7 linked regions of the Homo sapiens genome follow. The protein of the gene in region 6 interacts with the protein of the main gene of each other region in a pairwise test. Each region holds a gene or a part of one and is shown on either strand. Other genes may lie near its edges.

The links.
Region 1: the proteins of KCTD15 (region 6) and PRPS1 interact in binary tests that used the Homo sapiens proteins (3 or more experiments, as listed by UniProt).
Region 2: the proteins of KCTD15 (region 6) and NOTCH2NLA interact in binary tests that used the Homo sapiens proteins (3 or more experiments, as listed by UniProt).
Region 3: the proteins of KCTD15 (region 6) and NOXA1 interact in binary tests that used the Homo sapiens proteins (3 or more experiments, as listed by UniProt).
Region 4: the proteins of KCTD15 (region 6) and KIF1B interact in binary tests that used the Homo sapiens proteins (3 or more experiments, as listed by UniProt).
Region 5: the proteins of KCTD15 (region 6) and NOTCH2NLC interact in binary tests that used the Homo sapiens proteins (3 or more experiments, as listed by UniProt).
Region 7: the proteins of KCTD15 (region 6) and APBB2 interact in binary tests that used the Homo sapiens proteins (3 or more experiments, as listed by UniProt).

The regions. Positions count from the first base shown.
Region 1 is NC_000023.11:107,631,510-107,635,009, reverse strand, and holds part of PRPS1 (ribose-phosphate pyrophosphokinase 1), read right to left. Parts: intron 1-3,500. UniProt on the Homo sapiens protein: Catalyzes the synthesis of phosphoribosylpyrophosphate (PRPP) that is essential for nucleotide synthesis.
Region 2 is NC_000001.11:146,156,022-146,159,521, forward strand, and holds part of NOTCH2NLA (notch homolog 2 N-terminal-like protein A), read right to left. Parts: intron 795-3,500; coding exon 459-794; coding exon of another isoform or gene 271-458; exon of another isoform or gene 209-270; coding exon 132-208; 3' UTR 1-131.
Region 3 is NC_000009.12:137,426,393-137,429,892, reverse strand, and holds part of NOXA1 (NADPH oxidase activator 1), read right to left. Parts: exon of another isoform or gene 1,861-3,500; coding exon 1,752-1,860; intron 1,453-1,751; exon of another isoform or gene 1,277-1,452; intron 1,012-1,276; coding exon 877-1,011; intron 618-876; coding exon 510-617; intron 1-509.
Region 4 is NC_000001.11:10,360,570-10,364,069, reverse strand, and holds part of KIF1B (kinesin-like protein KIF1B), read right to left. Parts: intron 3,142-3,500; coding exon 3,027-3,141; intron 2,379-3,026; coding exon 2,245-2,378; intron 788-2,244; coding exon 726-787; intron 1-725. UniProt on the Homo sapiens protein: Has a plus-end-directed microtubule motor activity and functions as a motor for transport of vesicles and organelles along microtubules.
Region 5 is NC_000001.11:149,456,621-149,460,120, reverse strand, and holds part of NOTCH2NLC (notch homolog 2 N-terminal-like protein C), read right to left. Parts: intron 1-3,500. UniProt on the Homo sapiens protein: Human-specific protein that promotes neural progenitor proliferation and evolutionary expansion of the brain neocortex by regulating the Notch signaling pathway.
Region 6 is NC_000019.10:33,803,370-33,806,869, reverse strand, and holds part of KCTD15 (BTB/POZ domain-containing protein KCTD15), read right to left. Parts: intron 12-3,500; exon of another isoform or gene 8-11; coding exon 1-7. UniProt on the Homo sapiens protein: During embryonic development, it is involved in neural crest formation. Inhibits AP2 transcriptional activity by interaction with its activation domain.
Region 7 is NC_000004.12:40,819,543-40,823,042, reverse strand, and holds part of APBB2 (amyloid beta precursor protein binding family B member 2), read left to right. Parts: intron 1-992; coding exon 993-1,172; intron 1,173-3,500. UniProt on the Homo sapiens protein: Plays a role in the maintenance of lens transparency, and may also play a role in muscle cell strength. Involved in hippocampal neurite branching and neuromuscular junction formation, as a result plays a role in spatial memory functioning.

The sequences.
Region 1 (3,500 bases), on a different chromosome or scaffold from region 6:
AAATTAGCCAGGTGTGGTGGCGGGCGCCTGTAGTCCCAGCTACTCGGGAGGCTGAGGCAGGGGAATGGCGTGAACCTGGGAGGCAGAGCTTGCAGTGAACCGAGATCAAGTCATTGCACTCCAGCCTGGGAGACAGAGCGAGAGAGCGAGACTCTGTCTCAAAAAAAAAAAAAACAAAAAACTTTATCATTATCAAGTAAGACCAGAAAACAACATTCTTAGACCACAGTGGCTTATCTCCCTTTACAAATGCCTCAACTATCAGTCAATATAAAAAATACCCACAAAATTGTTATATTGTCCATGATGTTACTCGATATCACTATTTAGAGGTCTCACCCATAAAATTCTTAGGATTTTTTGCCTGGAAGTTTCTAAATAACTTTATGAAAATAAAAACCACATAATCGATTGCATATGCCTTTATCCCTCTGGCTGTCAGGAAGCCAAGGGATACAGTTAAAAAAATGTAACACTAGGCTGGGGCGGTGGCTCACGCCTGTAATCCCAGCACTTTAGGAGGCCGAGGTGGGCAGATCACCTGAGGTCAGGAGATCGAGACCATCCTGGCTAACATGGTGAAACCCCGTCTCTACTAAAAATACAAAAAAAAAAAAAAAATTAGCCATTAGCTGGGCGTGGTGGTGGGCGCTTATAGTCCCAGCTACTCGGGAGGCTGAGGCAGGAGAATGGCGTGAACCCGAGAGACAGAGCTTGCAGTGAACCGAGATCGCGCCACTGCACTCCAGCCTGGGAGACAGAGCTAGACTCCATCTCAAAAAAATAAATAAATAAATACATAAATAAAATAAAAAGTAACACTAAACTTTAGAAATTGTTTTATGCCAAATAGTTGCCACAATTACTGTAGTCCATGGTTCTATAAGGCTTCTGATACCTACCTTAACAAACGGTTTGTACTAGTGACTATCAAACATACTTCAAATCCTTTCTTGAAAGCAGGTGAGATACTATTTAAAAATTAAATTATCACTGCTAATTAAAACATCAAAGGGCATCTGATAAATATATAGCTTTAATAGAGTTGATTATTTTATTTTTTAAATTGTATTTATTTTTTTTGAGACGGAATCTCACTCTGTCACCCAGGCTGGAGTGCAATGGTGTGATCTCTGCTCACTGCAACCTCTGCCTCCCAGGTTCAAGTGATTCTCCTGCCTCAGCCACCCAAGTAGCTGGGACTACAGGTGTGTGCCACCACGCCTGGCTAATTTTTGTATTTTTAGTAGAGATGGGGTTTTGCCACATTGGCCAGGCTGGTCTCAAACTCCTGACCTCAGGTGATCCGCCTGCCTTGGCCTCCCAAAGTGCTGGAATTACAGGTGTGAGCCACCGCACCCAGCCAAGGTGATTATTTTTAAAATATACATATTCTAACATCACATAAGGCTTGAATAATAATTTTTTATAAATCACTTATCAAACAAAAAATAAAAATAAATAAAAATCACTTATCAGCTTACCACCCAATACAGTCGCTAGTACCATTTTTGTTATTATATCACTTAATAATCAATCAACAGCTCAGCTATTTCTCAAAGCCAAACTTTTTTTTTTTTTTTTTTTTGAGATGGAGTCTCGCTCTGTTGCCCAGGCTGGAGTGCAGTGGCAGGATCTCAGCTCACTGCAAGCTCCGCCTCCTGGGTTCACACCATTCTCCTGTCTCAGCCTCCCGAGTAGCTGGGACTACAGGCGTCTGCCACCATGCCCAGCTAATTTTTTGTATTTTTAGTAGAGACAGGGTTTCACCGTGTTAGCCAGGATGGTCTCGATCTCCTGACCTCGTGATCCACCCGCCTCGGCCTCCCAAAGTGCTGGGATTACAGACGTGAGCCACCGCACCCGGCTCAAACTTTTTAAAATTAAAAGCTACCTTCAGCATAGAAGGTGTTTGTTATAAGGCATGTATCTAATAACTTGAAAAGGTTATTTAACTGTTTAAAAAATGTGGGGCTTTTGAAAAGATCTTACAAAAATGAAATAAAAGTAGAGAAACTTAGAAAGCAAATACATAAATAAAATAAGGTGGTGCAAGTAAACTAGGTGATACTGCCTTGTTTTAATGTGTATAATTCTAATTTCACTTATTAAAACCAATCTTTCCCTATAGTAGTACTATAACATACAGACTTTGTTTGACAAAGTCTTAAAAAGTCCGTGAATTGCACTCTGATTATACAGCTTGGTTCAACAAGTCCTCTAAAAATCTTAACCTTATTCTTATGGCTTCTTCTAAGTTATGGCAGTGATCGAGAAGAATATTTGTGCCTAAAACCTGTTTGCTCCTAACATAATCTATTAAGTGGAAAAACCTAATTCAGCAATTTAGAGAGTAATACTCCTTGTTCTCTCCCTCTAGTTAATGGAGTGTTCTCCAAATGGCTTTGGGCCAATCATTCTCTCAGCTGTTTTGGTGAGGCCAGAAGACTGGCTATGTCTATCCAATGAGTGAAAAAACTAGCTTCTCTTTTCCCTTTCCTTTAAGGTCAGGCATAAGTGTATCCAATTGAAATGGAATGTCAGGAAACACCAAAAGTGAATCTAAAAGGTGGATAGTAGTCTTAAGAAAATCTGAAGAATTTAGATTATGGAGATATTGGCATGTGCAAAATACATGGGATTAACTAACCACAACCAGAAGATACAGTTCTCAGGAAAACCCTAGGCAACCAAAGTTCAAGTCTTCCTCCTCTCAGCTAGTACAGAATAACCAAATAAACCAAAGTTATTTACAAATATTGAAGAGAATAGAGTCAAAATTTTAGAATATCTAAGTTTTTAAAGCCAGGTGAGAGATCTTGTCAGCAAAAATTTAAAGGAACAATAATACCCAGAGCTGGGCAAGTTACTCTGCATCTTACTGTAGTTCTCTTCTCTGTAAAATAGGGATAGTAAGAGTTATTCCTCATAGCAGTTTTGAGGGGATTAAACACAATGTATACTAAATGCTTAGCATGGAAACTAGCACATCTTAGGCATTCACTATACATTAAATATTATAGCCGGGCACGGTAGCTCACACCTATAATCCCAGCACTTTGGGAGGCCAAGGTGTGGGGGATCACCTGAGGTCAGGAGTTTGAAACCAGCCTGGCCAACATGGTGAAACCCTGTCTCTACTAAAAATACAAAATATTAGCTGGGCGTGGTGGCACGTGCCTGTAATCCCAGCTACTCGGGAGGCTGAGGCAGGAGAACTGCTTGAACCTGGGTGGCGGAGGTTGCAGTGAGCTGAGATCGCACCACTGCACTCCTGGGCAGTAAGAGTGAAACTCCGTCTCAAAAAATAAATACATAAATAAATATTATTAATATTGTATTACTGCTGATGAGACAGATTTGTTCAACTTTTCTGGGGAATAATTTGGCAACAGGTATCAAAAGCCTGAAAAATGGTATCTACCCTTTAACTTAATAATTACCTTCCTAGGGATTTATTCTAAGGAAATAATCAGAAATGGTCAAAGATTTATGTTCAT
Region 2 (3,500 bases), on a different chromosome or scaffold from region 6:
GGTGGATAAGAAAACAATGAATTACTCCATCAAAAGCAAAAGCACAAGCACATAGTAAAGTTGATCACCCACTGTTAATGTCAATTCAGTTTAAAGCACTTTATTAACCACACATACATATTTTCCAGTGTCTAATTCTCATCGTGTTCTTTTCCATTCCAGACTTCCCTGTCTCTTTCCCAGAGCTCTGTTCCTCTTCTCACTGTTTCTACAAAAGGGACAATAAACAATTTTCTAGCCACTCATCATCATAAACCCTGACATGCTAAATTATCCCCTGCTCAGTTTATGGACCACAGTGGGCCCATAAAACTCCTCCCTCACTAGCAACCCACCCCACACAAAATTCTCACTTCCCTTTTTCCTTGCGCTTCCTAAAAAAAGCAATTGAGCCACACCCACTACCTCCTGTGCTAGGGGTTTGTCCCCTAATCCTGGGACACTAGGGAGCTCCTTACCTGGAAGGCAGTTGCACTCAAAAGTGAAGTCACCAGTCTGCCGACAGGTGCCTCCATTGACACAAGGCGAGGGTGCACAGGGCACATACAGGCTGTCACAGTACTGGCCTGTGAAGCCCTGAAGGCACTGGCACTGGTAGGAACCAGGCAGGTTGAGGCAGGTGCCACCATGCTGGCAGTGTCCTGGAATGTCACACTCATTGACATCAGTCTCACACTTCTGCCCTGTGAAGCCTGTGAGGCATTTGCAGGAGAACTGGTTGGCCACAGTGGTACAGGTACTTCCATTTGCACAGGGATGAGACAGGCAGGCATCGGTCCATTGGCACTCCTTACCTAAAGGAAGGATAACAAAACTCAGTACTGGCCACAGAAATAGGAGATGGCCCCATCCTCAATACCTCATTGACATCAGCGAGCTCTTGCGTGGAGAAGACCTCAACTCTTTGCATTTTACAAAAGGCTAAATCAGAGCCTCCTCAAGGTCATCTGACACAGAGCCCTCTCCAGTAACTCTCCAAGGACCTCAGCAGAGACACAAGGACTCAGTGGGTGGAGCACCTGGAGGCAATTGTAGGTTAGTCACATTGAAGCCCAATCCTGCAGGACGCTATCAGCAATAGGAGTCTGGATCCATCTACTCTCTCAGAGCTCACTGTCTTTGCATATGCTGCTCCTGTTTGAATATCAACTTCCGGGCCAGGAGCAGTGGCTCACACCTGTAATTCCAGCACTTTGGAAGGCCGAGGCAGGCAGATCATGAGGTAAGGAGTTCAAGACCAGCCCGGCCAATATGGTGAAACCCTGTCTCTACTAAAAATACAAAAATTAGCTGGGCATGGTGGCGCGCACCTGTAATCCCAGCTACTTGGAAGGCTGAGGCAGAAGAATCACTTGAACCCAGGAGGCGGAGGTTGCAGTGAGCCGAGATTGTACCACTGCACTCCAGCCTGGGCGACACAGCAAGACTCCATTTCAAAAAAAAAAAAAAATCAACTTCCCTTCTGTTTTCCTAGTGAACTCTCCCTATCTTGGCAACTCTACTCAAAAGTTCCAACCTCTGTAAAGTCATCCTTAGTGCCCCTCACATACATACATGTGCGCAAAGACAGATACACCAAGTTTGCTATTTTCTTCTATTATACCACCTGCCACACTGGCAGGGTTGGGTCTCCGTGGTATGCTCTCAAATCATGTCTGTTGAATGGATAAAATATATCGATATTTTCCACAAAATATAGTTACTAAATAGACCTCTGGTGATAGAAACAAGTCAATACTACTTCTGTTTCCTCTAAATGTAACACACACATATATTCTGGGAAACATTTTATTAATTGTGGCCTTGCTATAAATATCTGTTGATGTGTTTGAAAATGATGAAGGACCTCTGGGTCCCTATATAACAAATGAAATAGAAGCCATCAGGAGGACAGAGGTCTCGAAGGTATTCCGTGGACTTTCTCAAGTAGGAAAGTACCAGCACTAGCAGGAAGACTCTGACGGGTTGAAAACTAAATCATGATGCCAGGGGAAGCAAAGCAGATTCTTTGAGGCAGAAAGAGAAAGAGAAAAAAATATCCTCACAGAACTAGTAAATTTGGTATTCACATGGCTGGCTTTTTGTTGTCATTAGTCTAAGTCGCTTATTATTTAAACTACAGAGATAAGAACTCCTTGAATTTTTATTATTATTATTATTATACTTTAAGTTCTAGGGTACACGTGCACAACATGCAGGTTTGTTACATATGTATATATGTGCCATGTTGGTGTGCTGCACCCATTAACTCGTCATTTACATTAGGTACATCTCCTAATGCTATCCCTCCCCCGTCCCACCACCCCACGACAGGCCCCGGTTTGTGATGTTCCCCTTCCTGTGTCCAAGTGTTCTCATTGTTCAATTCCCACCTATGAGTGAGAACATGCGGTGTTTAGTTTTTTGTCCTTGCAATAGTTTGCTGAGAATGATGGTTTCCAGCTTCATCCATGTCCCTACAAAGGACATGAACTCATCCTTTTTTATGGCTGAATAGTATTCCATGGTGTATATGTGCCACATTTTCTTAATCCAGTCTATCATTGATGGACATTTGGGTTGGTTCCAAGTCTTTGCTATTGTGAATAGTGCCGCAATAAACATACGTGTGCATGTGTCTTTATAGCAGCACGATTTATAATTCTTTGGGTATATACCCAGTAATGGGATGGCGAGAACTCCTTGAATTTGTTAATACTCCAGTTGATTGTCTAGGAAAGTATCTAAATCTCTGACCTCATAGAAAGGTAAATGGGAGACACAAGAGTTTTTCTATAAGGGAAAAAGATGCGAGATGTGACATATGAGCACAGAAAAGTGCTCTCTGCCTATCAAGGAATGTCAAATCAAAGGAGAAAACTATAACACAAATTTAGGCACAGCATATACATCTCAGGGAGCTAAGACAGAAAATGAAGGAACTGCAATTCTTCTTGTCTTTCCACTCATGTCACTAAGAGGCACTTATTTACAGTGGAGAAGAGATATAAATGCTCACTTCTAGCAAGTGTGATTTTCAGAGTGATGCCCACAACTGAAACAGAAAGATCCCCGGGCCGGAAGTGGTGGCTGATGCCTGTAATCCCAGCACTTTGGGAGGCTGAGGTGGGCAGATCACTTGTGGTTAGGAGTTTGAGACCAGCCTGGCCAACACGGTGAAACGCCATCTTTTCTAAAAATACAAAAATTAGCCGGGCTTCATAGCGCATGCCTGTAATCCCAGCTACCTGGGAGGCTGAGGCACAAGAATCACTCGAACCCAAGAGGTGGAGGTTGCAGTGAGCCGAGACTGCGCCACTGTACTAAGCAACAGAGTGAGAAGAAAGAAAGACAGAAAGAGAGAGGGAAAGAGAGAGGAAGAGAGAAAGAGAGAGAAAGAAAGAAAGAAAGAAAGAAAGAAAGAAAGAAAGAAAGAAAGAAAGAAAGAGAAAGAAAGAAAGAAAGGAAGGGAGAAAGAAAGAAAGAATCAACCCTGAATTTGGTTTCCATATATATTATGT
Region 3 (3,500 bases), on a different chromosome or scaffold from region 6:
GACCTCGCTATCTGTGGCAGGGACGCAGGGACCCCCCCCCCCCGGGACCTCGCTATCTGTGGCAGGGACGCAGGGACCCCCCCGGGACCTCGCTATCTGTGGCAGGGACGCAGGGACCCCCCCGGGACCTCGCTGTCTGTGGCAGGGACACAGGGAGACACAAAGGCATGAAAGGACGCAGAGAGACGCAGGGACTCTGGGAGGCTGCAAGGCTGTGGCTGTGGCCATGGCCCAGTCTGGGGGCGGGGTGGCACCTGCAGGGTCCTTGTTGAGAGAGCTGGAGCCCCCTCCTATGCAGCCGGCTCTAGTGGGCTCTGCCTTCAAGCTCACAGCCCCATTTGGGGCACCGCCCCCCTACCGTGGGCGCCAGTTTGAGGATGGCTGTGGGCCCACTCTCTACCCTCCTGGCCCTTACGGTGGCCTGGACTGCACCTCCCCCCATCCCTGGGAACACAGTTCGAGGGCTCAGCACCAGCCGCCATGCCCCAGGACGCCGTCCCCACCTTTACCTTGGCCTTGCCCAGGAAATCCACGGGCTCCAAGTGCTTCAGGTGCCACCGGTGGGGCCGGAAGACCTCGCCCCTGGGGACCTGCCGTGGCGGCAGTGAGCCCCGTCTCTGGAGGGGGTGGGTATCCAGCAGATGCAGACGGGGTGACCAACCAGGCCTGCAGCCGCAGAGCCCCTGTGCCTTGGAGCAGAAGGGGCCGCTTGGGCCCCCCACCCCCTTCCCGCAGGTCACAGGAAGCCCCCGCCTGGCACCCGAAACTGGGCACTAGGGCCATCTCCCTCCGGAAGCTTCTTCATCTCATGAAATTGGTCTTGAGGAGCTTTGGTAGGCACCAGCCCAAAACCATGACCGGGCTGGCACTCCTCACCTGCACTTGGTCCAGGGCTGAGTCCAGGCCATTCAGGGACCCCTCCGGCCACTTGGACATGGCCTCCCTTAGGCTGCTGGCCGCCTCTGTCCAGAGCCCCAGCTGGCACTGTGCCGACGCCACATTGTGTAGCACCTGGGAGTGGGGCCAAGGTGATGGCAGGGGCCTGATGCCCCACCCAGGCCCTCTCCCGGTTCCCCCACCCAGCTCCTCCCTCGGTCTGCCCACCCAGCCCCTCCCCCAGTCCCCCCACCTGGCCCCTCCCCCATCCCCCCACCCAGCCTCTCCCCCAGTCCCCCCACCTGGCTTCTCCCCCGTCTCCCCACCCAGCTCCTCTCCCAATCCCCCCACCCGGCCCCTCCCCTGCACCGTTCTGTGTCCTGGGCTGGCGGGCCCCCACCTGGCTTTAACCCTGACTCCAGACCCACACCAGTGGGCTTTCCCTTCCATCTTTTTGTCCTAAAAGACAATGCTATTCCCAGAAGGCTTCAGGGCGATGCATTTCCGGGGTCTGGTGGGGGGGCCTCTCAGCACCCCTCCTTCGGTGCCAACACGTTCCAGGCAGCCAGGAAAGGGCTGGGGGCACAGTGGAGGGTGGGCACAACCCCCTGCCTGCTCCCTGCCCACCCAGCAGCCTTTCGCCTCTGCCCTCCTTCTGGGTGGAGCCACCCCTGGTGGCCTGAAATGGCACAAAATGGTCCCTCCACCTCCACTGCCACCAGAACCTCCTGCGGGTCAAGGAGTGGCCAGGGTATTCCATGGCACCAAGAGCTTCGGCCAGAGGCGCTCCCCAGTCCACAGGGCCCTCCTGTGACAGTGCCACCGCCCGTGGACACCCCACAGCCAGCAGCACAGTGAGCCCTGCCCGGCCTCACCTCCCAGGCTTGCAGCTTGAACCGCAGGCCCAGCTGCGTGTAGTCGATGGCAGCGTGGCCCCTCAGCTGCTCCAGGGCCAGCCAGAAGTCAGACAGAGCCTCCTGGAACCTGTGGGCAGCCGGGGTCCCCTCAGCAGCACAGGGCGGAGATGGGGCTGTGGTTAGGCAGCTTTCACACCAGCCCCGCTCGAGCCGCCCCCAACACCTGGTTCCAAGGAGACCTGAGGGAGGGCAGTGCGGTGCCTAGGTCTGCACACTCAGGTCTGGTGGGCCAGGGGTCCATGCACATGTGTGCTGAGTGGGTGTGGGGGTCACTGTGTGCTGGGGCTCCACCATTTTCCCAGCTCAGACTCAGCTTCCTGGGCCCCTGCCCGCCCCCAAGCCTCTCTTCTGAACCGTGCAGAGAGCCCTGGTTATTTCCCTCCTGCTTCTCAGGCCCCCCACCCCATGGGGGCTCCCCCTCCAAACTCTGAGCCTCCTTCCAAGCCTTGCTGGGAGCTCCCCAGCGCCTGCCGGAGAGGCCTCTCCTCCAGGCGGGCTTCCCGCGCCGATGTGAAGGAGAGGCTGCCCCAGAGGGGTCTGGATCGTAATCCAGAAAGGGACAGTCCCACAGCCATAATCCCGAATGCTGGGACTCTTCAGTAAAGGAAGAGATGGCTTTTTCGTTCATCTGCCTTTCTGAAAGGTAAAATATCTCCAGATCCGGGCTCTCTGGGCGACTGCGTATGTGGTGGTCCCTGAAGCCTTTGATGGATCTTGTTAGAAGGTGGGTTGTTCATCTTGGTGTTTTGATGACCAGTTATAAAGCCAGGTGCACACAGTCACCAGCCAGAGTCTACGCACCTACGTCTTACCCCTTCTGACCTAGCTCCTCATGAGCACTGTTCATCTGCTCGTAGTTCTCACACCCGTGAGCCTGTCGCTAGCGTGCATGAATTTGTGCTTGAAAAAATATGTATGTTATTTTTGTCTATTTTATCGGCCAATGAAGGGTTCCGTCGTGTTTTTATGTTTCTCAAATAAATCCCTTTAAAATATGTAAATAGGCTGGGCGAGGTGGCTCATTCCTGTAATCCCAGCACTTTGGGAGGCCGAGGCGGGTGGATCACCTGAGGTCAGGAGTTCGAGACCAGCCTGGCCAACATGGTGATGCCCAGTCTCTACTAAAAATACAAAAATTAGCCAGGCGTGGTGGCACATGCCTGTAATCCCAGCTACCCGGGAGGCTAAGGCAGGAGAATCGCTTGAACCCAGGAGGCGGAGGTTGCAGTGAGCCGAGATCGCACAATTGCACTCCAGCCTGGATGACAGAGCAAGGCTCCTTCTCAAAACAATTTTTAAAAAGTAAATAAATATCTTTTACAGAATTTTATTTTTTCTAGAATTATATTTTTTGGGATTTTAGATTTGAGGGGTTTTGATATTTCAGGATTGCGAGGCTCTCGGGACTGTGATCCACTTCCCCACAGAGCCTGCCCTCCTGGGATGGGGCCTGTGAGTGTCTAGCAGAGAGGCCGAGGCATGGCCTGGTCTGCAGTCCCGATGGTCTCCTTTCCCTCATTCCTCCTTTAGGAAGGGACATGGTGCAGAGAGCCCAGGTAAGCAGTGAGGACCCCACGACCTGTGTCCAAGGGTGGCGCTCAGCAGAGGCGAGGGCCACAGTCTCAGGTTTCCCTGGAGCCAGGAACCATGGAGGAGGGGGTGGGCAAGAGGAGGGAGTGGATGGAGAGGGAGGAGGAGGAGGTGCAG
Region 4 (3,500 bases), on a different chromosome or scaffold from region 6:
TTAGTATTATGCTGGTTTTACATATTAAATACATGAATTTATATTAATTAAAAAAATTCCTCAAGAAACTATCTGGATAGTATAATAATTAGGTGCTACTTGGATTCATACTCAAAGTCTTCTTTACTTATCTAAGTCTTGCCTGTGGGCCCTGACTTGTTTTCCATGTATATTCTGTAAAATGACTCAAACTCACATTAATCAAATGCTATTAGAAAACCTTAACTTTTGTTCATGTTTCGGTTTACAAACATAGAAATGCTAAGTGCTGCTTAACTCCGCCTAGCTAGAGGAACAAGAGCAGTTTAAAAACACATTAAAAAGAATACAGAACAAATCTGACTTAATAATTTGATTTTTTTTTCTTTTTCTTTTTTGAGACTGAGTCTCACTCTGTCACCTAGGCTGCAGTGCAGTGGCACAATCTCGGCTCACTGTAACCTCTGCCTCCCAGGTTCAAGCAATTCTCATGCCTCAGCCTCCTGAGTAGCTGGGATTACAGGCACGCGCCACCACACCTGGCTAATTTTTGTATTTTTGGTAGAAAGGGGGGCTTCACCATGTTGGTCAGGCTGCTCTTGAACTCCTGGACTCAGGTGATCCACCCGCCTTGGCCTCCCAAAGCGCTGGGATTACAGGTGTGTGCCACCGTGCCCAGCCTAAATACAGGATACTTGAAACATACACAAAGATAACTATCACCTCCTCAATCCACAAGAGCTTACCTGGACTACCTGTGTCTGACATTTTGCATAAGCTGAGTTCGTAAATGCCAGTGACTCGATTCCTATTTGAAGAAAATAAAACAATTGTTTAATCTCTTAAAGCACAAAAACAGGAAAATTTCAATTTCTGCTACTTAAAATAGTGTCTTCTCTGCAGGGACTCAAATATAATTCCAGGCATTTCTTATTTGTCACCGCTCTTTTCTTATTTTGAACCTAAGTAGCATACCTTTTCCTAGAGGAGTCCGCTTTCATCTCAATTTAATTTTTTTATAGATAGGGTTTCCCTGTGTCACCCAGGCTGGAGTGCAGTGATGTAATCACAACTTACTGCAGCCTCGAACTCCTGGACTAATGTGATCCTTCTGCCTCAGCCTCCTGAGTAGTTGGGACTTCAGGCATACACCACTATACCCAGCTAATTTTTAAGTTTTTTTGTAGAGATAGGGTCTCCTTATGTTGCCCAGGCTGGTCTTGAACTCCTGGCCTCAAGTGATCCTTCCACCTTGGCATCAAAAAGTGCTGAGATTATAGGCATAAGCCACCATGCCCCACCTCATCTCTATCTTTTAAACACTTTATTTCAATAGGGTGAATAAAATTGAATGATAAACTAGAAAATTTAAAATATAAATGTGAAAACTAAAAATTTGTCTTTTCTTACTATAAGAGAGACGATATGAGGGAAACAATGACTAGAATGAAATGATAATCAACAACTTCTGGGGATTGTGAGTAGTAGGAGGTATAATACCTTCTATTGTATTAGTAACACTTATTTTTAAGCTGGGCGGTGATACACAGGTATTCATTGTATTGTTTCTTTCTTTTTTTTTTTTTTCCTTTTTCTTTTCTTTTTTTTAAATTTTGAGACAGGGTCTCACTGTTTCACCCAGGCTGGAGTGCAGTGGCTCTATCATGGCTCACTGCAACCTCAACCTCCCAAGCTCAAGTGATCCTCCCACCTCAGCCTCCTGAGTAGCTGGGACTACAGGTGTGTGTCACCACACCTGGGTAATTTTAAAATTTTCTGTGGAGATGGGGTCTGTGTTGCCCAGGCTGGTCTCAAACTCCTAGGCTTAAGCAATTCTCTGTCCTCAGCCTCCCAACGTGCTGGGATTACAGACATGAGCCACTGTGTATGGCCTTCACTGTATTATTCCTGACATATTTTGTATGCCTTAAATATGCATAACAAATCTTAAAAAGAAGAAAATTTCAATGGTACTCTGTTAGAAATAATGATGATGACATTTAAAAGTCTTTGCAAATTTAGTCTTTGCAAAATTGTTTTAGACGTGTTCACAATGTAATATTCCTTCCTTCCCTCATAACTCGTCCATCCATCAACATTTTATTAAATGTCAGCATGCAAGTCAGTACATTCCAGGTGTCAGTTACCAAAATGGTTCATAAACTGTAAACTAACCGTGAGACAGTAAGCCGAGAATACTTAAGGACTAATGATTCTGTTGTACTGAACAAACACACTGGAAGCTAACTTGTGTGAAAAACTTACGAATCTGGTGACTTTGAGTAGCCGCTGCCAAAGAGGCTACGCAGAGAGCGTGGTGGTGAGATCTTGGCATCTCGGGAGTAGAAGACCATGCACACATCCTTGGTGATGACAGCCGGCTGGATGCAATGATCCAGCTGAAAGCAGACAGGGTAGGTGCTGATGAAGTGCAGGCAGAGTACTGTGACTAGAGTCTATACACGAACGTATTTGGAAAGCGAGTCCCAGTTGTGAGAACTGAAGGATTTTAGCTCCACCAATTATTTCAACAGCCACCCAATGGATAATATGTGCAAGAGTAGGTAGTACTCCTTAGAGATGCATTTATTTTTATCTGAGGTAAATGTTGTTTCTCCTGATAGGTGAGGAAACTGAGGCAAAGAGAGTTTCTCCAAGGACATAGAGGAAGTAAGTGGCAGCACAGGGATTTGAACCGACAGGCTGGGTCTTGGGTCTGGGCTATTAACCACTATTACACTCTGTCCACAACTACAAAAACAAGAGGTGACATTTTCTTAAAAATCACACATTCTTCAAACAATGGTGATTAGGCTACTAAAGCTGAAGCTGCAATGAGTCATGTGATTTTTTGAGTAAACAGAACCCAGGAATAGAGTCTAATATAATCAGAAGAGTTAGCAATGTATAATAAAATGAAAAACTTAAGGATGTGGAGGAAGAAAGAGGACAAAACAAGTGGAATCTTCGCTGACCACTTCCTGCTGTAACCTGCACACTGTTCAGGGCTGACTGTTGGCATCAACTGAAGTTCCAAGTCTCCTCACCTCTAGGTAGGCCGACAAGGTCATGTAGATCTTTTCTCCATAGGGTGTCACTCGGTTCAGAAGAAGGGAGTTATGCAGAGAGCTATCCCACACAGCCTCAAAGCGGTAGAAGGTCCTAAGGTCAGAAAGACAAGAGGGAATCATCCAAAAGAAGCTAAAGTCACGTTAGTCCAGGTACTGCCACTGTCAATCATCCTAAAGAACCATACGCCAACCAACAGACACTTTCAGTTTATCAAACTCTAATAACAGAGAGGAACCCTTATCTCCTAGGAGGAAAAGATAGGTCCCCATCCTCTTGCTCCCAACCCCACCCATCATTAAGGAACACTTAGTTGTGCTTTTTTTTTTTTTTTTTTGAGACAGAATTTTGCTCTGTTGCCCATACTGGAGTGCAGTGGCACAATCTCGGATCACTGCAACCTCTGCCTCCCGGGTTCAAGTGATTCTCCTGCCTCAGCCTTCCGAGTAGCT
Region 5 (3,500 bases), on a different chromosome or scaffold from region 6:
AATATTTTCAGTGACTTACATCATCAATACCATCATCATCATGATGGAGATCATGGATCATCCTAACTACCCTCTACCCCACCAACACCTTTTGATGAATGATATGGTTTGGTAGTGTCCCCACCCAAATCTCAACTTGAATTGTATCTCCCAGAATTCCCATGTGTTGTGGGAGGGACCCAGTGGGGTAACTGTATCATGGGGGCCAGTCTTTCCTGTGCTATTCTCATGATAGTGAATAAGTCTCATGAGATCTGATGGGTTTCTCAGGGGTTCTGCTTTTGCTTCTTCCTAATTTTCTCTTGCCACCACCATGAAAGAAGTGCCTTTTGCCTCCCACCATAATTCTGAGGCCTCCCCAGCCATATGGAACTGTAAGTCCAATTAAACCTCTTTTCTTCCCGGTCTCGGGGATATCTTTATCAGCAGCGTGAAAATGGACTAATACAGTAAATTGGTACCAAGAGTGGGGTTTTTGCGAGAGTGCCAGCTATCCCGAGGGAAACTTTGGAGGGAACCAGCTACTAGATGGTTCAATTAGTCTTTCGCCCCTACACCCAGGTTGGATGACCGATTTGCACATCAGGACTGCTACGGACCTCCACCAGAGTTTCCTCTGGCTTTGCCCTGCCCAGGCAGAGTTCACCACCTTTCAGGTCCTAACATTTGTGCTCATGCCCCACCTTCCCAGTGCAGAAAACAAGATGGGCCGGTGGAAAGCTGACCTGGCTACTGCCACCGCAGAGTGCCCAATTTGCCAGCAGCAGAAACCAACACTGCGCCTTTGATATGGCACTATTCCTCAGGGTGATCAGCCAGCTACTTGGTGGCAGGTTGATTATGTTGGACTTCTTCCATTGTGAAAAGGGCAGATGTTTGTCTTTACTGGAATAAACACTTACTCTGGATATGGGTTTGCCTATCCTGCATGCAATGGTTCTGCCAAGACTACCATCCGCGGACTCATGGAATGCCTTATCCACTGTCATGGTATTCCACACAGCATTGCCTCTGACCAAGGCATTCACTTTATGGCTAAAGAAGTGCAGCAGTGGGCTCATGCTCATGGAATTCACTGGTCTTACCATGTTCCCCAACATCCTGAAGCAGAACGGTGGAATGGCCTTTTGCAGTCACAATTACAATGCCAACTAGGTGAGAATACTTTGCAGGGTTGGGGCAAAGTTCTCAAGAAGGCTGTGTATGCTCTGAATCAGCGTCCAATATGTGGTACTGTTTCTCCCATAGCCAGGATTCACAGGTCCAGGAATCAAGGGGTGGAAATGGAAGTGGTACCACTCACCATCACCCCTAGTGATCCACTAGCAAAATGTTTGCTTCCTGTTCCCGCAACATTAAGTTCTGCTGGCCTAGAGGTCTTAGTTCCAGAGGGAGGAACGCTGCCACCAGAAGACACAACAACAATTCCATTAAACTGGTAGTTAAGATTGCCACCAGGACACTTTGGGTTCCTACCTTTAAGTAAACAGGCTAAGAAAGGCGTTACAGTGTTGGCTGGGACATCAAGGCTATCAAGACCCAGGCTATCAAGATGAAATCAGTCTACTACTCCAGAACGGAGGTAAGAAAGAGTATTCATGGAATACAGGAGATCCATTAGGGCGTCTCTTAGTATTACCATGCCCTGTGATTAAGGTCAATGGGCAACTACAACAGCCCAATCCAGGCGGGACTACAAATGGTCCCGCCTGGATGAATGAAGGTTTGGGCCTCTCCATCAGGAAAAAAAAAAACACAACCTGCTGAGGTGTTTGCTGAAGGCAAAAGGAATACAAAATGGGTAGAAGAAGGTAGTCATCAATACCAGCTACTACCATGTGACCAGCTGCAGAAATGAGGACTGTAATTGTCCTCAGTATTTCCTCCTTCTTTTATTAAAAACATGTCTGTGCTTGCACACACTTGTACTAAGAAAATATCTTCATTTTATTTCCTTTCTCCTTTATCATGTGACATAAGATTTATTGACTTCACATCAGCATTTAAGTATCGTTAACTTTATGTAAGAGTGTTTCAGTTGGGGACTGGTGTGTTTCCGGATGTACGAAGAATAGTTGTACTACATCAGGTGTAATTATGACCTAATTATTGTCTTTATTTGAAGATTATGTGTGATCTCAGGAGATGTGTATGGGTTCAAGTTGACAAGGGGTAGATTTGTGGTGGTTAAAACTGAGTGTGTCAACTTGATTGAATTGAAGGATACAAAGTATTGATCTTGGGTGTGTCTGTGAAGGTGTTGCCAAAGGAGATTAACATTTGAGTCAGTGGGCTGGGGAAGGCAGACCCACCCTTAATCTGGATGGACACCATTTGATCATCTGTCAGCAAATATAAAGCAGGCAGAAAAACATGAAAAAGCGAGACTGGCCTAGCCTCCCAGCCTACATCTTTTTCCCGTGCTGGATGTTTCCTGCCCTCAAATATCGAACCCCAAGTTCTTCGGTTTTGGAACTCAAGACTGGCTCTCCTTGCTCCTCAGCCTGCAGACAGCCTATTGTGGGACCTCGTGATCATGTGAATTAATACTTAACAAACTCTCCTTTATATATATATAAAGATTGCCAATATATATATATTAAGATTGCCACCAAGACACTTTGGGTTGGAATATATATACATACATATATATTCCATTAGTTCCATCCCTCTAGAGAACCCTAATACAATGAAAAATTAATATAACAGTATTCTACACTAACTGATCCAGTATAGTCTTCTGAGTACATTTTTCACTTTTTTGCTTATTGCATTTATAGAACTCTTGGTTTAGTGCTTAAAGCAGGAGAAAAAATGAAGAATGTTCCTCCTTTTCTCATCTAATTTAATAAACACTTTTGAATAAAGCTCAGACCCACCTAGAAAAACCCACAATCTATTCAGGTGAGATATGTGTAAAAAAAATTACAATAAAATGTGATACATAAAACTAATAAAACTTAGAGACCATTTGCCTAAAGGAATCATGAAAGGGTCACTAAGACACAGTTTTAAATAACATTGGACAATCACCAGTTGTAGAAAAGGGCATTCCAGGCAAAAGGGTGTGTAACTGTATGGAAGCAATAATAAGTACAACATTTTCAGGAAATAAGGAGAATTTGGTGTGACTAGGCCTAGATGCTTGTGGGGAGGCCAGGCTATAAAAAGATGTAAAGTCTAGGCTGTAGAGAGCTATGGAAGTCATGTAAAAGAGTTTGCAGTTTATTCTGCGGATGATGAAAAAATATTAGACATTGTAAGCAGGTGAGATTGTTAGAATATTTGCATTTATAATCAAAGATGTAGTAATATCATGGGTGAATGAGATGGGGAGAGAATAAAGGCAAGAAAACGTATTCAGAAACTACTTCAGAAGCCCAGGTGAGAGATAACATGGCCTTCAGCTACAGGGTAGCAGAGGAAATGGGAGGAATAGACAGGTGAAAGGCAACTCAGAGGTTGGCTTGGGTGACTGAGTTGAAATGAGGTCAGAACAA
Region 6 (3,500 bases):
GCTTATCCTGGGAGAGACAGGCGAGGTGGGATGTCTGAAGGGATGGGGACAAGTCTGCCTGTCTTCCCACACCCCGCCCCCACTCCTGAGGGCCCACACGGCTGGAGGGGCGAGGGACCTGACATGGGTGACTCTGGAACTGTTCCAGGCCTGACAACATCTGCACACACCTGGGGCAGCCAGGCTACAGTTAACAGGACACACCACACATCCTGCCTACACCCGCAAGTCACAGCCAGAGAGGGACACACCCAGCTGTACACACCAGCCTGCCAACACACGTTATGTTACAGGCCTGGAAAGGTATAGCAAGACACAGGCACCTTACCCCCTACACACAAACCAGCTGGTCACAGGCCTGGTGCACACACCCTTGCCAGATAGACCCACCCAGAAAATGCACATGAACCATCCAACACCCCGGCCAACAGCCACACACCCAGTAAACGAGCCAGGACATACATCCTCCCCACCCAACCCATGTAAACGAGTGTGAGACACACAGGCCTGTGCAACAGGCACAGGGTCACATGGTCCCTTCCTTCCCAACACACACATATCATGCAGATCCAGACACATCCAGGAAAGGACACACACCTGTCAACACCAGGCACCCAGAGACATGACGGCACAAATCCCCTACTGCCGCTCACTCAGGGAGCCCACAGGGAGAAACAGAGGCAGACAGGAGGGATGGCAAGTGTGCCACAGCACACACATGCAACAGGGCCCTTGCACACATGCCACAACACAGGCATACACACACGCACACAGAAACCATGCACACACATGCACCACAGTGCATACATATGTGCACACATGCCAGAGCGTATGCACACCACACCTAGTGGTGGCGGATGGGGACTGGAGAGAAGGCAGGTGCCGGTACCCTGTCCTCTGAAGGGCAATGGTTCTAACAAATGCAAGACCAGGAGAAGGGTCTTGGGGAGCCCCTGATGCCTGTCCCTGTCCACTCCGGGGAGAAGGAGCCAGGCCTCAGAGCCAGGGCTGATACCACCTCCCCAGTGCCCAGGGTGGCCAGCTCTGGTTTGGCAACTGCCCTGGCAGACCCCAGGTCGAGCTAGGGATAACTAGGAACCCTAAAGAGGGGTGGGAGTAGCCAAGGGCTTGGTTTGGGAACAGGAGGGAAGTTGGCATCATTTCCCCAAGGGCAGCACCACCACATCCTTCAGCAGGCAGGGCCACACTCCTGCCCAGCTGGACCCTGCCAAGGTGGCAGCTTCTCTGCACAGCTGGGAGAACAGTAGCTCCAACTTGGGACCTAGGCTTCCCAGCCCGGCCTGCACACAATCTGGAGCCTAAGCCCCTCACTCTCTGCCTGCACCAGCAGGGACCCCTGCAGGGATGCCCCCTGTTCTAACAGCAGCCCACTCCTCTGTCCACTCCAAGTCAGCCGTCTCCAGGGCCCTGCCCCACTGCCACTTGCACCCAGGACACACTAGCTGGGCAGGAGCTGAGGGAGTCAGAGCCCCCAAGTCTGCCCTCAGGGCCTCCCGTCCACACCATCCTATGCTCTGATGGCCCAGCACACTCAATGCATCAGCCATGATGGTCTGCCCGGGTATGGAGTCTCTGGGAACACGGTGCAGGTTTCTCTCCTAGCAGGGTAGTATAAAGGGCACGGTTTAGCTGGGCACCGTGGCTCACACCTGTAATCCCAGCACTTTGGGAAGCTAAGGTGGAGGACTGCTTGAGGCCAGGGGTTCGAGACCAGCCTAGGCAACGCAGCAAGACCCCATCTCTACAAAAAATTTAAAAATTAGCTGGGTATGGTGGCATGCACTTGTAGTCCACTTGGGAGGCTGAGGTGGGAGGATCACTTGAGTCCATGCGTTTGAGGTTGCAATGAGCCGAGATCACACCACGTACTCCAGCCTGGCCAAGAAAGACAAACGCTGTCGCTTAAAAGAAAGAAAGAAAAGGGCAAGGCTGTCTCGTGGATGGGCATGGGGAGGTCAGAGTCTGCTGTGAGCCCGAGTCTGTGGACCCAGAGCTGCAGCCACCCAGATACAACTCATCTCAGAGCTCCAAAGGCCGATGAGCCCTGTCAACCCCCTAGGCCTGGTGACAATGGCACTGCAGGTCACAGCCCCTGCTGGAAAGGCTGTGGGTTCCACGGCTGGCTCCAGTTACAAAGGCCCTAGGACCTGGCCTAGTAGAGCGTGGGCATCCAGATGTCAGAGTGAGGGCCACCCAGCATTCCTGGAGACAGATGGGTCTGTCCCAGGCTGCCAGATACCATGGGCAGTGGTTGGCAGGTGGCTGAGGTCCATGTGTGGCACCGGTGGGAAGTAAGAGCTACATCCAAGGTGAGTCAGCAGATCCAAACCCTCAGCCTCCTGGGAACTCTCCCCACCCTTCCCAGTGGAGCTCCAAAGTCCATGTAAGCAGGCAGCATTCTAGGCCTGGCTGAGTTCCCAACCCTTCTGACGTCAGGTCTGGCTGAGGCTCTAGCTGGTCCTGTTGGTCTAGAAGACTCCTGATGCACCCACATTCCAGGGCTGGATGGGTTCTAGGTTGTCTCATCGGTCCAAGTTTAGAAGGTTTTCCATCTGCCTTATTTCAGGACAGGCTGATTCTAGATCTTTCCATGGTTCAGTATAGGCTCCTGGATCAAGCGGCAGCTGTACCGCCTCTCCCAGGACAGAGGCCTTTCATGCCCTCAGCGTCTGAGGCTGCCAAGGACGTGAGCAGGTTGAGGAAAGGTGAGGATAATCACCATGGAGGAGCCCTCAGCCATTCTCAGCCCTGCAGGTATGAGTTCCCAGCTCTGTCAGGGGCTCCACGTTCCCTGTGGAAAATGGCCCAGGCCACCCTCTGAGAGAGGATGCAGGGTTTGAGGGGCCGGCTTCCGAAGTCCTCCATGGAATGAGGTGGCCAGTTCACGCTGCAGCAGGTGGGACCCTCAGGGGCAGAAAAGATGCCTCCAACCACCTGCCCTGTGTGCACAAGGGGGAGCATCAGGATGGCCTTCGTCTTCTCGTTTATTTCCTTTTTTTTTTTAAGCTCTGGCTCCAATTTCCTGGCTGTTTCAGGCACCAGGTTTTAAGAGTTCTGAAGCTCCTGGCCATCTTCATTTGATGCTTCCCATAGTCAGGATGGATGTCAGAGTGTGGCTGTGATGGCGGCAGCTAACGGGGGTCAAGCAGGCAGGACACCAGCAAGGGGGCCGGCCCAGGGAATCCACTCCCAGCCCCGGCTGTGCTTGGCTGTCTCGGGTGAGGACCAGTGACTGCTCCTAGGCAGACCAGAGGAGTCACCCAGCACGAGACTCTCCAGCACCCAGGCCACCCCAACCGCCGAGACCCAGAGGCTCAGGCAGAGTTCTCAGGGGAGCCGAGGGTAGAGGTCCCAGCTTTTACAATGCTGCCTAGGGCAGGTCATCTTCACCATCCAGAAACCCCCTGAGGACCACAGCACTCTTAGTCCTCCATCTCCAGGTGTCTCCTAGATCAGTGACACTAGGTGAGATTGATTTT
Region 7 (3,500 bases), on a different chromosome or scaffold from region 6:
ACCACCAGTCATCAGCCTGCCCCACAGCTGCCCGGTTCACCCTGGAGAGAGGAGCAGGGTGCTCACTGCCTGCCTCCAGCTGGCCACACTGAGCTCTCCTCACCTCTTCAAGTAGGTCCCGCCCTTCCCCACACCAGCATCATCGCAAGCACTGCACCCTCCATGCTCCACCCTCTGCCTACCCGACCCTTACCCAGATCACCACCACAGCCTCCTTCCTCCTGAGAAAACTTCCCGACCTCTCACACTAGTGTACTTTGCTCATTAAACACTCCCAAGGCACTAGAGTGAATATTTAATTAGTCAAGATGTTAATGATCCAAAAGTCAACATTTTGGATGTGTTTATTAATTCAAAACTTGCATATGGTTCTTGCAAAGGATGTGGTGTTCATCCCTATGAGAAAGAATTCTGAACATTTCTTTACGCTGCCTCATGTGGATCCCAGATGGACACCAGTTTGCAAGAGAGAAAAGAAAAAAACAATTTGACAACTTTTTGTTGATTTGGCAGCTTTTTGTTTTATATGGTTTTAGATGGAAATGTGATTCAGTGTGCTGTTTAGTTTGGGTAAGAATCACTGGACGAAGAAAGATACCGTGAATCCCTTTTTTCTGGTGCTCTGGGGGTTTACTTGGCCAAATGGGTTTTGGGCCACCAGGTGTCCTGTATTTGGGCTAGATGTAAGAAGTATGGACGGCACTGTCCCTCCCCACAGTGAACTCACAGCCACGTAGCATAATGGAGAATGGGACCCACATCACACCCCATGACAGCAGTGTAGTTCAGAGCAAGAATGACCTCCAGAACAGGGTAGCCATGCAGTGATGGCCTCTTCAGACATTTGGGCAAGGTTCCGCCTTTCGAGAAAAACACAGGTCCTTTCTGAATTCGGCCTGGCTATACTTTCTGAATGCCAGTTCCTATGTGCTGCCACTCTTAAGCTTGATCCTGGGATCTCCTGATTGGATGCCGCATAATGTCTCTTGCAGAATGAAGAGGAAGTCTTAGTGGAATGTCGTGTGCGATTCCTGTCCTTCATGGGTGTTGGGAAGGACGTCCACACATTTGCCTTCATCATGGACACGGGGAACCAGCGCTTTGAGTGCCACGTTTTCTGGTGCGAGCCTAATGCTGGTAACGTGTCTGAGGCGGTGCAGGCCGCCTGCATGGTGAGTTATCCCGGTACAGGCTGTTGAGCCCTCCCGCCTCTGCTCATCTCTAATATGCCATACATTATAGCAGAATCACTCACGGAAATGAAAAAAGTCGAATCCCTAAAGTAATGCTTTACTTTATAACGCCGTCATTCCTAGGGCCAGAATCAGTTATGATAAACAGATTACATCTCCAAAGGCCAGAACTCCTGAAAGAAGTGGGGCCAGATAGAGGCTCCGATGAGTTTCATAACCACCACCTTGACGACGGTCAATCCTTGATCCCAAATCAATTTCATGTGTGAAATGTTGGTCGTGTATGAGTTGGTACTGTTTGGGTTCAATTCAGTACTTTAAAAATCAATACATTGAATGACTTTTGTTTCCAGTGATTGGTTTCTGTACACCGTTCTTATATATTTTATTTATATCTGTTAACTCAGTCCTTCCGACAACTCTGTTAGGTAGTTGTTAGTTCTGTTTTATTTATGAGAAAATAGAGACTTTAGGGAAGTTAGAGAATGGGCCTCAGGGCTTGTCGGTAAGTGACAGAGCCGAGCCTGGATTCAGCCCCAAGCTGCCAGGTGACAAAGTCAGAGCTCTTTATACCACATGGATACTTGGAAACAAACAAGAATCCCTCATTATTCCTTCAGCATGTGTCTTTGTGCCCCTCTTATGCCAGACACTGCAAAAGTTCTAATAAAAATGAGGGAACTGGGCCGGGGGTGGTGGCTTACGCCTGTAATCCCAACACTCTGGGAGGCTGAGGCAGGCGGATCACTTGAGGTCAGAAGTTCAAGACCAGCCTGACCAAATGGAGAAGCCCTGTCTCTACTAAAAATACAAAATTAGCCAGCGTGGTGGCGCATCCCTGTAATCCCAGCTACTCGGGAGGCTGAGGCAGGAGAATCACTTGAACCTGAGAGGCAGAGGTTGCAGTGAACCGAGATCGCGTCATTGCACTCCAGCCTGGGCAACAAGAGGGAAACCCATCTCAAAAAAAAATGAGGGAGCTATATGAGTGTGGGCACCAAAGCCTGTGGGCAGGTGTGTTCCAGCAGCAGCAGGTTGGGTGCTGGGCCCGAGTGGAAGGAGGTGCGGTCCAGATCATGGCGGGCTTATGATGATGGCGTGTGGGGGCCTGATTTTCTTCAGCAAGGATTGCTAAACTGGGGATTGAATTGATTGTATTTAGATTATTTATTTATTTATTTATTGAGATGAAGTTTTGCTTTTGTTGCCCAGGCTGGAGTGCAATGGCGCGATCTCAGCTCACTGCAACCTTCGCCTCCTGGGTTTAAGTGATTCTCTTGCCTCAGCCTCCCAAATAGCTGGGATTACAGGCACCTGCCACCACGCCTGGCTAATTTTTTATATTTTTAGTAGAGATGGGGCTTCATCATGTTGGCCAGGCTGGTCTCAAACTCCTGACCTCAGGTAATCCACCCGCCTCAGCCTCCCAAGTGCTGGGATTACCGGCATGAGCCACCGCACCCAGCCTGTATTTAGATTTTAGACGAGTATCCAGCAAAAAAAGAAGACAACCAAGTAGAGGATAGGTTGGAGGAACAAGGCTGAGGTGGCGATCAGCCAGGAGCCCAGTTACCTTCTGCAGATGGGAGAGAGGAGGAGCGTCCACGCTAGGAGAGCAGCGTTGGGAACAAACAGGAGCAGAGGCTTTGAGAAGCACCGAGCTGCCTGGCTGGGGGAGAACTGCTGCATGTGAAGCCCCTGGGCTTCATTTAATTCAGCCTCGCACTTACGGGCTGGAATCTGGGGCATTCAGCATGACTGAGATACAGTCCTTGCATTGTAGAGCTCAGGTATAGTGGGGGAGACACAGAAACCTAAACTCTGTTACAGTGTAGAAAGTGCTGTAAATAAAAGTATGAGGATCTTCACTTTCAGCCGGGCGTGGTGGCACATGCCTGTAGTCCCAGCTTCTGAGGAGGCTAAGGTGGGAGGATGGCTCAAACCCAGGAGGTCGAGGTGCAGTGAGCTACGATGGCACCACTGTAGTCCAGCCTGGGTGACAGAGCGAGACCCTGTCTCAAAAAAATAAATAAGAAAAATAAGTATGAGACTGTGCTGGATTGAGAAGTAACTGGGAAGAAAAAGAAGTGGAGGCCCTAAAAGCAGATAACTTACAAAGTTTGCCAGTGAGGGGGAGCTTGAAGGGCAGCATTGGAGGGTTTGTTCATGTGTTTATTTCAGGACAGGAGAGGCCTGCCCCTTTTTTATTCTTTATTTTTATTTTATTTTATTTTTTTTAAGAGATGGGATCTTGCTATATTCCCCAGGTTGGTCTTGAACTCCTCCCTGGAACGGCAGGGGAGCACC